3 linked regions of the Homo sapiens genome follow. The protein of the gene in region 3 interacts with the protein of the main gene of each other region in a pairwise test. Each region holds a gene or a part of one and is shown on either strand. Other genes may lie near its edges.

Region 1 (3,750 bases), about 23 Mb from region 3:
ACCTGTAATCTCAGCTACTCCGGAGGCTGAGGCAGGAGAATCGCTTGAACTTGGGAGGTGGAGGTTGCAGAGAGCTGAAATGGCGCCACTGCACTCCAGCCTGGGTGACAGAGTGAACTTCATCTCAGAAAAACTAAAACAACAACCACAAAAAAGATGGAAGAGGCATTACATTTGTGGGTGGAAGACATGAACAGAAAACATGTGCCAATTGATGGCAACGTGTTGAGCCAGAAAGTATTGAGCCTATACAAAGACTTCAGTGAGGGATTCCCTAAAACGAGTGATACCAAGCCACTTACTGCAAGTAATGGATAGTTACATGAATGTAAGAATAGATTTGGACTGAAAAATATAAAAATCACTGGAGAGGCTGCATCTGTCTCTTCATCTTATCACATAGGCATTTTATCATCATACATCATCTCAAAAAGAAGGGTCAGTACAATAAGATATTTTGAGACAGAAAGACCACATTTACATAACTTTTATTACAGTATAATTGTTCTATCTTATTATTACTTGTTAATCTCCTACTGTGCCTGATCTATAAATTAAGCTTTATCATAGGTATGTATATATAGGAAAAAACATAGTACACATAAGGTTTGGTACTATCCATCGTGTCAGGCATCCACTTGGGGGTCTTGGAAAGTAGCCCCTGCAAATACAACTGTATTTGTTAAATGAATGAATGGATGAGTAAGACATCGTATTCACTTCTTAAAGATCTTAAAATCTAGAGAGGAGAGAAACATTGCTGTAGGAGAGGATAAACAAAGGACTGTGAAATCTCTGGAGAAATTGAAATCAGGAAGGGAAGGGCAAATCGCAAAAGTCAAGCCAGGAGCATTAAGTTAGATTTGTGCTTTGAGATGAAAACCCCTTACAAATCCTAAGTCAGGGAATGCAATGGTTCTAGAGCCAACTCTAAAGAAAATTTCACACATGGGAAATACATCCTACTGGATATCCGGATTAAAAGCGTTCAGTAGAGACTGGTGCAGTGGCTCAGGCCTGTAATTCCAGCACTGTGGGAGACTGAGGCAGGCAGATCGCTTGAGCCGAGGAATTCGAGACCAGCCTGGGCAACATGGCAAAAACCCCATCTCTATTAAAAATACAAAAAATTAGCCAGGCGTGGTGGTACATTCCTGTAATCCCAGGTACTCAGGAGGCGGAGGTGGGAGGATCACCTGAGGCCAGGAGGTAGAGGCTGCAGTGAGCTGTGACCATGCCACTGCACTCCAGCCTGGGCGACAGAGTGAGACCCTGTCTCAAAAAATAAAATAAAATGAGAAATAATAAAATAAAATTAGCTGGGCATGTCGGGAGGCTGAGGTGGAAGGATTGCTTGAGCCCAGGAATTCGAGGTCATAGTGAGCTCTATCACGCCACTGCACTCCAGCCTGGACGACAGAGCAAGACCCCAGCTCTTTAAAAGAAAAGCGTTGAGTAAATACTTGTTGATTAATTCCATTTCTGGAAATAATCGGATTTATGAAAGAGGCCCTGCCCACCTCTTTGATATGGACTTGTACTAATGAACTACAATTCCCAGCATGCGTCAGAATTAGGGCCGTAGAGTTTTTTAAAATATGGACTACAACTCCCGGCATGCCACACCAGGATTCGAGGACCACACGCCTCAGCCAGCCCCGGCAAGGGCCTATCAGGGGTGGGTCGGGGCATCCGAGCGGGTTTGACGGAAGGAGCGGCGGCGACGGAGGAGGAGGATGGAGGCGGTGGTGTTCGTCTTCTCTCTCCTCGATTGTTGCGCGCTCATCTTCCTCTCGGTCTACTTCGTATCCTTGCCTGAGGCAGGCGAACGCCTTGCCGGGGGACACGGCTGAGGGTGGGCCAGTTGGGCACCCGGGCAGGTGTGTGGGACTAGGGAGGCGCCCGGCGGCGGGCGTGGGCTCCCTGGGAGCTGGCCTGGCCGGGGCGGTGGCGCGGGCCCCGGAGCGGGTAGGAGAGGCTGGCTGCCCTACCCGACGGGCCCTGCTGCCCTGCACGCACTTGCCCTGCCTGGGTTGCCGGCCGCCCCTCACTCGGGTCCGAGTGGGCCTCTCCGGGCGCGCCCCGTCTCGGCCTGCCCGCCTGCTCTCCGCTCGTCCCCGCGGCGCCCGGACCAGCCCTGCCTGAGCCACGGCCGCCCTCGGGAGAGAAGCGTCGCTGTTTTTCTGGGAGAGGCCCTGCGCCGTGCTCTTCGTCGGATATTGGGGGTCCCAAGGGCGGTCGCTTGCGACAGTCGGGTGCCGGGATAAGTGCGGGCCATTTGCCTCCTCCTGTTCCCCACGCAACACCCCCGGCACCCGCCCCTTTGTTCTGGCGGGTGTTAGTACTTGCAGGGACCTTTCACATCCAGGAGTTGACTCATTCGCCAAAGGAGCGAAGTTGCTTCCTTCACTGTGCCGTTTTGTAGTGAGTGTTGGAAAGGAGTTGTTTTAACAACTGTCTACAAAGTGATTATTTTGGTTGTCCCCGGTGGTTGCAGATCTGTAAATTCAATAACTACATCTGCTGTAGTTCCCAATCGTTTCTCAGCTTTTAAATTTTTCTATCGATCCATGTTAAAACTTAAGTTGCAGTATTCAAACTGTTTTCCAGAGCAATAAATGGTGGTTGAATTTAGCACTGCAGTAGCCATGTCGGCTACAACTCTTCCCATCTCTTGACAAAGCATCTAGGCTTAGTTGTTGCCCAATGTTGTATTGCACCATCCAGGTTTAAGTAATTAAATATAAGAAAAAACGTATGAGGAACTCCGCATTTCAGCTTCCTTTCTTGGAAATCACATGTACCTGTTTCTGATCGGATTAAACCATTTGTTTGCTAGAGCATGCGGGCTTTAGGATAGTCGTACAGAGTATATGTTCAGTGCAGCTTCATTTTTCATTGTGGACTGGCATCCTGTTGTAGTGGAAAGGGACAAAATTTGGAATCAGATTTCCTGGTCAGCTAGCTCTTTGCTTGCACATTATTTCCCTAAGCCTCAGTTTTCTGATCTTTAAAATAGGAAATGTTTATTTCCTAGATATGCACAATGAGAATGGTGCTGAGCACCCTAGCACAGTGCCTGCCCCATAGCTAATGTTCAGTAAATATTGCTCTGCCTTCGTGTCCCCACCCTCCCCAATTGAGCAGCAGTTTTTACTTTGATGATATCTAACGACAAGATTTCTGAGTTTTAGTAGGTTTGGGGAGCTGATTGAAAGGGCAGCATCACTTGCCTAAGTTTTGATGACCTCTATGCCCCTCTTGTGATATAAGGAACTAGAGCAAGCTTGTCCAACCCACGGCCCACGGGCTGCATGTGGTCCAGGACAGCTTTGAATGTGGCCCAACACAAATTTGTAAACTTTCTTAAAACATTATGATTCTTTTTTGGTGATTTTTTTTTAAGTTCATCAGCTATCATTAGTATTAGTGTATTTTATGTGTGGCCCAAGGCAATTCTTCTTCCAGTGTGGCCCAGGGAAGCCAAAAGATTGGACACCCCTGAACTAGAGCTTATGCTCAGAAATGTAGCTGGGTTTTTTCTTTTTGCAGTTTGGAAAACCAGGCTTGATAATTTTAAATAGCCCTGGTTTACACCAATTTATGCATTTAGAGAAATGGTAGGTGGAATGTTTGACTTAGACATTACATTAAAATACATTCGGGGGGTGTTTTGATGAAATTCAGCATATTCTGTATTTTAGAATAGTTGCACTAACTTAGGGATAGGAGGTGGAAAATGGTCACGGT
Region 2 (3,750 bases), on a different chromosome or scaffold from region 3:
TTTTGTACTTTTAGTAGAGATGGGGTTTTTCCATGTTGGTCAGGCTGGTCCTGAACTTCTGACCTCAGGTGATCCACCTGCCTTGGCCTCCCAAAGTGCTGGGATTACAGGTGTGAGCCACCACGCCTGGCCAAGACTGAATATTTTTTGGATTCTATAATGATATTTTAAAAATCTGCTTCAAAAGCTTTTTTTTTGAGATGGAGTCTCACTTTGTTGCCCAGGCTGGAGTGCAGTGGTGCAATCTCGGCTCACTGTGACCTCTGCCTCCCCGGTTTAAGCGATTCTCCTGCCTCAGCCTCCTGAGTAGCTGGGACTACAGACACACGCTACCATGCCCAGCTAATTTTTGTGTTTTTAGTAGAGATGGGGTTTCATCATGTTGGCCAGGCTGGTCTTGAACTCCTGACCTCAGGTGATCCACCCACCTCGGCCCCTCAAAGTGCTGGGATTACAGGTGTGAACCACCGTGCCCAGCCTGGCCAACATGGTGAAACCCCGTCTCTACCAAAAATACAAAAATTAGACGGGTGTGGTGGTACACACCTGTAGTCCCAGCTACTCGGGAGGCTGAGGCAGGAGAATCACTTGAACCCGGGAGGCGGAGGTTGCAGTGAGACAAGATCGAGCCATTGTACTCCAGCCTGGATGAGAAAAGTGAAACTCTGTACCACCCCTGACCTCCCCCACAAAAAAAAAAAGAAAAAAAAAAAGGAGAAATCTTGTTCAAAATAAGTTTTCAATAGCTTTTATTTATATTTATTTATTTATTGAGATGGAGTCTCACTCTGTTGCCCAGGCTGGAGCACAATGGCGTGATCTCAGCTCACTGCAATCTCCACCTCCCAGGTTCAAGTGATTCTCCTGCCTCAGCCTCCCGAGTAGCTGGGATTACAGGCGCCCGCCACCACGCCCAGCTAATTTTTGTATTTTTAGTAGAGATGGGGTTTCACCATGTTGGCCAGGCTGATCTCAAACTCCTGACCTCGTGATCTGCCTGCTTCGGCCTCCCAGTGTGCTGGGATTACAGGCGTGAGCCACCGCGTCCGGCCTTCAATAGCTTTTAATTAAATATGTGAAGTTTTGGCAAGGCACAGTGGCTCACACTTGTAATATCAATTCTTTGGGAGGCAGAGGCAGAAAGGTCATTTGAGGCCAGGAGTTTGATACCAGCCTGGGCAATGTAGCAAGACCCCGTCTCTCCAAAAAATTAAAGAAAAAAAAATTAGCTGGGTGCAGTGGCGTGCCTGTTAGTCCCAGTTACTTGGGAGGCTGAGTTGGGAGGAGTGCTTGAGCCTGGGAGGTTGAGCTGTTATTCCAACACTGCACTCCAGCCTGGATGACAGAGTGAGAGCTGGGATGACAGGGAGAGACTCTATCTGAAAAAAAAAAAAAAAAAAAAAAAAAAAAAATATATATATATATATATATATATATATATATATATGAAGTTTCTTGCCCCTGGGATTTCTTCTAATGGTATGTTAGAGTTCCCCCAACAGCTACAACCAGATTCCAATTTTTTTTTTTTTTTTTTTGGGACAGAGTCTCACTCTGTTGCCCAGGCTGGAGTGCAGTGGTATGATCTCAGCTCACTTCTGAAACCTCTGCCTCCCAGGTTCAAGCAATTCTCATACATCAGCCTCCCAAGTAGCTGGGATTACAGGCATGAACCACCATGCTCAGCTAATATTTTTGTATTTTTAGTAGAGACAGGGTTTCGCCATGTTGGCCAATCTGGTCTCGAACTCCTGACCTCAAGGTGATCCGCCTGCCTTGGCCTCCCAAAGTGCTGGGATTACAGGCATGAGCCACTACGCCTGGCTCAGATTCCAATTTGAGCCCTATGTGAAAATACCAACTCCTTTGCAGCTCCTTCCCCAAATCCCTTACACTCACCATCCATGGAATCCCCTGGCATTTGTGAGGGATACTTAATTTTCCTCCATGGCTTTTCTCTTCTGGAGGATTATATGCTCATCCTGTGCATGGGGCTGCAGGGACTTAGATGCTCCATTTCATCTCTATTTTTACAACATCCTTACCCACCCTGGTGCCAAGCATAGGTCCTTGCTTACCTTGTGACATGAGCAAAGGTTTAGTGAATGAATAAATGAACAAAAAGCCATATTTCCCAATGATAGCTTGGTCCCTGGTACCCAGAATAGGCCTACATGATGCCTTATTGATCACAGCTGACTTTGACTTTCTCCTGAGAGGTGTGGGAGTTACAAAAATGTTTATTTGTCTCACATTTCTAAGAATCACAGTAATAACGCATCTGGTAGAAATCAGCAACTTGAAGGAACACAATATAGACATGGTATTATTTTAATTTTCATTGGAATTCTTATTTGGCTACAGGACAAATAGTTACTTTTAGGCTAGCCGTTCTTTTTTTTTTAATTCTTTTTTTTTTTTTTTTTTTTTTTTGAGACGGATCCTCGCTCTATAGCCCAGGCTACAGTGCAGTGGTGTGATCTTGGCTCACTGCAACCTCCACCTCCCAGGTTCAAGAGATTCTTCTGTCTCAGCCCCCCGAGTAGCTGGGATTACAGGCGTGTGCACCACGCCCAGCTAATTTTTGTATTTTTACTAGAGATGGGGTTTCACCATGTTGGCCAGGCTGGTCTCCTAACTCCTGACCTCAAGTGATTTGCCTGGCTCAGCCTCCCACAGTGCTGGGATTAAAGGCATGAGCCACTACTCCCAGCCTAGGCTAGCCATTCTTAAATGCATGTACATATATCCTTAAAAAGCAAAAAGTAAGGGAAAAAATGGATAGATCTTTTCCCAATAAGTGCTATTCATATTCTAATTTTATGTCCAAAGATCAACCATATTTTCAGATGAGATCGAGCGCATTCAGGGTGGTATGGCTGTAGACATGATCAACCATATTTTCAATGCTCTAGATACCTGACACTTAAGTAGAAAATTAACATCATGCTAATATGAACAAATTGGTCTTTTTCAATACTAGAAATTATCATATTAAAAAATCCTTGCCCCTCAAAATGCAATCTGAGTCAAAATGGCTCAGAGGGAGAATGTCAAGAGGTAGGAAGATCAGTGAGAGTTAAAATAGTGATGGTCTAAAAGGCAGGAAGAAAGAAGTTCTGAGCTGGGATAGAGAAATGATAGTGGGGTAGTAAAATGGGAAAACCGTCCCAGATAAGCCAATTAATGATTACCTTTTCTGAAATTAAACTGATTTTACTTTGAAGTTGTTGGAATTCATTGGTTTCTAGTTTCAGTAACTGGTATTGGTTTTCCACCTTTGCAAATTTTTCTGACTGCTGAAATACAAACCTGGAAAAGAAAAGAAAAATCACTATTCTCCAATTCATATCCATTTAAATCCGAATTTCAAAGGAGAATTATACCCACTTCTGTTAAGAACAACATAAATTCTGGTATGGGTAGCTGTAGGTTTTTTTTTTTTTTTTTTCACACAGGGTCTCACTCTGTCACCCAGGCTGGAATGCAGTGTCACAATCATAGCTCACTGCAGCCTTGAACTCCTGGGCTCAAGTGATCCTCTTACTTCAACCTCCCAAATAGCTAGGACTGTCCATCTCGCTATGTTGCCAAAGGTGGTCTTTAGCCTTTTTTTTTTTTTTTTTGAGATGGAGTCTCACTCTGTCGCCCAGGCTGGAGTGCAGTGGCGCGATCTAGGCTCACTGCAAGCTCCGCCTCCTGGGTTCACGCTATTCTCCTGCCTCAGCCTCCCGAGTAGCTACGACTACA
Region 3 (3,750 bases):
TTCACAGGGGGAGAAGTGTCACCAGATTCAATGCAAGGGTTTTGTGAGTGAGAAGGGCAGGGGGTCTGACTTGGAGAAGGTATTTCTCTGAAAGCAACGGCTATTGTGGGAGACGGGAGAAAGCACAGCCAGAAATCAGAATGGCATTTGGGGGTCTGGGTTAGATATTCTGGTGGGTTCTCTTCCCGATGGGACAGAGAAGGAAACCCACTTCCCTTCTGTCTACTTGGTGAATCTGCGGGTCTCCGAGTTGCTGTCTGCTACATCTCATAGCACCTATCTTGGACTGGACAAAATTAGCTCAGGTACCCTGCAGGCTGAGAGGGAACAGCTAGTCACAGGAGCCTGGTTTAGGGGAGTTCAATTGTTCTGAGGTTCCGGGGAAACCGATGGAGGAGGCCTTGGGAGTCCAGGCAGCGCGCGAGGAAATGCGATGCCGGCCCGAGCAGCTTGCTGCCGCCAGAACAGGCGCGTCTGGGGAGCTCAGTCCCCTCCGGGACCTCTGGCCTCCTCTCGATGCTCCGCTGCCGCCCACCTCCAGCGGCCCGGGGCAGCTACCAGGAGGCCGAGGCAGTGTTCGCGGCCTGGGCCCGGCAACGGAACACGGAACTGTCGTCCCTGGAGAGCGAGGAGGCTGAGCTGATCCTTCGCGCCAGGCGGCCGGTGCGCCCGCAGGCCCCGTCCAGCGCCCGGGCTCGGAATGAGCGGTCCAGCAGGAGGTAGATGAGCGGGTTGGCGCAGCTGTTGACGAAGGCCAGGCAGGTGGCAATGGTGAGGCCCCAGCGCAGCGCCAGCAGCAGGGGGCACGGCAGCGGCAGCGCCCCCAGACGCGCCAGGTGGAAGACGGCCCGCAGGGCGCTGAAGGGCAGCCAGGAGCCCACAAACGTGCTCTCGATGGCGAAGATGATGCGCAGCGAGTTCCTCCGGGCCCGACCCACGTGCGGCGGCCGTCGCAGGCGGCGCGAGATGCGGCAGTAGCAGAAGAGGGTGACGACCAGGGGCAGCACGAAGGTCAGCAGCAGCAGCAGCAAGCTGAGGCCCTGGAAGGCGTGGGAGGGCTCCTCGCCGCACTGGCTGTCCTGGCCCCCAGGCAGGGGCTGCAACCCCCGGTAGACCAGGGAGGGCAGGCCGGCCAGCAGCGCCACGGCCCAGACGCCGCAGCACGAGGCCAGCGCGCAGCGCGGGGTGCGCAGTGGCCTCGCCTCGAGCAGCTTCACCACGGCCAGGTAGCGGTCCACGCTCATGCCCGCCAGCAGCAGCGCGCCCGCGCAGCGCGTGCCCGCCAGCGCGAAGCTGCTGAGCTTGCAGAGGCCATCGCCGAACGGCCAGCGGCCGCCTAGCGCCGCCGCCGCGGCCCACAGCGGCAGCGTGAGCACGAAGCCCAGGTCAGCTGCCGCCAGGTGCAGCACGAAGGTATCCACCAGCCGCCGCGGGCCCCGCCGCCCGGCCAGCAGCCACACCACAAAGGCGTTGCCCAGCAGGCCCACGGCGAAGGCCGCCAGGTAGAGCGCGGGGATGTAGACGTAGCCGTAGGGCAGGTCCCCGGCCGGACACAGCTCCAGCTCCTCCAGGCCGTCCAACCCCGAGTAGTCCCAGGGCGCTGACCCCGGGCTGGGGCTCCAGGGCTCTGTGGGGGCCATGGCCTGGCTATGAGGCCTGCGCGGAGTGCAGCCCTGGGCGCAGGCGGCAGCAGCTCTGAGCAGGAGGGGGTTTGCTCTTCACGCCCGGCCCTGCACCTCCCTTCCTGCCACCCAAGCCGGAGGCAAATGGGTGGGCAGGAAAGAGGGGAGGGAGGAGGGGATGGGGTGGGAGGGGCAGGCTTCTGTGAGAGAGATGGTGGCCTCCGATTTGGGGCTGACCCGAGGGGTAAGGGCAGGGACAGGCAAAAGGGGCTTCACATCTAAATCTTGGGAGGAAAAGTCTTCAGGGCTGGGAGACCTGCCCGGCCTCCCAGTAGGAGCGTGGCCCATTCCTCTATTAGTTGCTCAGTTTCTTTGTTCGTGAAATCGGGATACTTGCCCCACTGTCTCAGGGTCGCGTTGCAAGAGGTGGTGGGTGCCCGAGAGCCCTAACCTCTTCTCAGCCTCCACTTCACCCCTTCCCACCTGCACCCACCGGCTGCTGTCTTCTCTGTTTTAGAGGTGAGAAGACAGAGCCCCGGGATTTTATGAGTATGGGGCCTAAGGCACGCCCCACCCCAAATCCACCTGTTCCCTAGGAAAGACTCCACTGCCGGGACACAGCAGATCTGGGTGGGTGGGGGAGCCCGCCCTGGGCAGTCAAGCAGTTGTTAGCGTCCTGAGATGTGGGGCTCATGTCTTCACCCTATGAGTGGCTTCTCTGACCCAGTCAGGTCCTCATGAAGCCACGCGAAAGGGTTTTAAGGCAGCGAGGAAGGGGTGTAGTCAGATCATCCTGCTGGAAAGGGGTGAAACCTGGGATTCACATCTGCCTCTTCCCTGTCTTCTCCTATCCTAAAAAACCTGTCAAGCCAGACACAGATGTAAGCTCAGTTCAAAAGATGACACCTAATGAAACACCAGATTAGTTGTCCTAAATTATGAGTCAGGAGCTTGGAGGCAGCAAGATCCCTTCTGAACTGAGAAACTGAGAGTAAGGGGAGGATTCATAAAGACGAGGGGGAATGAAGTCTGACCCTGAGGAGGCAGTGGGACCTAAGGAGGAGAGGATGGGTGAGGGAAAGCTTGCTCTTTCTCCTGAAGGAGGCATGCAGCCACTTACATCTGAATTCTTCTTAGCAGATATCCCTTCCACAAGATATTGTGGTAGAACTGATGTCACAGTGCCCTCTGAGTCTGTCCCCAGTGTTCCCAGGTATGAGTGGCTGATGTGCCGGGCAACCCGGTGTGGAAAATTTGAGGTGGATTATCAATTTTGTTCGATTAAGACTTGTTAACAATGAACTCCTCCATGAAGCAGGCACTGTTTCAGGCACTGCAAGAGATGCCATTCTTGGCCTTCGCAGTTTGTTGCATAGGCAGGAGAGATGGTTACATAAGCAGAATCTTATGTAATCTTATGCAGGGGCCAAATTGTAGTAAATGTTAAAAACCAAGCCCTCTTAGGGTTTAGTGGAGGGGGAGTGATTATTTTTGACGGGAGGGCTGAATCAGAAAAGGCCTTCGAGGAGATGACACTTGAGATCAGTCCCAGGAAGGAGCTGAAAGTCAAATAAGAGCAGCAGAAAAGAGAAGAAAGGGTCAGACTCGGAGGAGGGAGTAAAGGGAACAAGTATACCAAAATGAGTAGGAATGTGGGCTTTTCAGGGGACAAGCAGTCTGCCAGAGCCCAGGGTAGGAAGGTGGGGGCAGGAGATGAAGCAGGAAAGGATCATGAGGGGATTTGGATTTCAATCTATAGGTCATGGGGAGCCAGGAGGCATCGATCTGTGTTTTGAAAAGATCGCTGGCAGAACTATGGAGAAGGGAGAGGCTCAAGCCAGGGAGACCCCATAGTAGGTTGTAATTATTTGTGTCTGAAATAGATCATGAGCAGTGGGGACAGAAATGGGAGGGTATATTCAAGAGATAATTGTAACATCATAGGTCTCACAAAGAGGAGTCAAAGATAAGCCTGGGGTTTCTCTGCTTAGGGACTATATGGACGCTGTCCCCTTAACTGCCAAGAACACAGAGAGGCACATGTGTGTATGTGTTCAGTTTGATGTTGAAGTGGGGTCATGAAATAATTTATCATCTAACCAGGATGTTTCTGAGAGTGAAAGGGGCA

What was found.
Region 1: the proteins of GPR25 (region 3) and CNIH4 interact in binary tests that used the Homo sapiens proteins (3 or more experiments, as listed by UniProt).
Region 2: the proteins of GPR25 (region 3) and IKBIP interact in binary tests that used the Homo sapiens proteins (3 or more experiments, as listed by UniProt).

What each region holds. Positions count from the first base shown.
Region 1 is NC_000001.11:224,355,189-224,358,938, forward strand, and holds the start of CNIH4 (protein cornichon homolog 4), read left to right. Parts: upstream 1-1,690; 5' UTR 1,691-1,736; coding exon 1,737-1,805; exon of another isoform or gene 1,806-1,855; intron 1,856-1,857; exon of another isoform or gene 1,858-1,880; intron 1,881-3,750. UniProt on the Homo sapiens protein: Involved in G protein-coupled receptors (GPCRs) trafficking from the endoplasmic reticulum to the cell surface; it promotes the exit of GPCRs from the early secretory pathway, likely through interaction with the COPII machinery.
Region 2 is NC_000012.12:98,631,102-98,634,851, forward strand, and holds part of IKBIP (inhibitor of nuclear factor kappa-B kinase-interacting protein), read right to left. Parts: intron 3,313-3,750; coding exon 3,195-3,312; intron 1-3,194. UniProt on the Homo sapiens protein: Target of p53/TP53 with pro-apoptotic function.
Region 3 is NC_000001.11:200,870,928-200,874,677, reverse strand, and holds GPR25 (probable G-protein coupled receptor 25), read right to left. Parts: upstream 1,698-3,750; 5' UTR 1,641-1,697; coding exon 555-1,640; 3' UTR 500-554; downstream 1-499. UniProt on the Homo sapiens protein: Orphan receptor.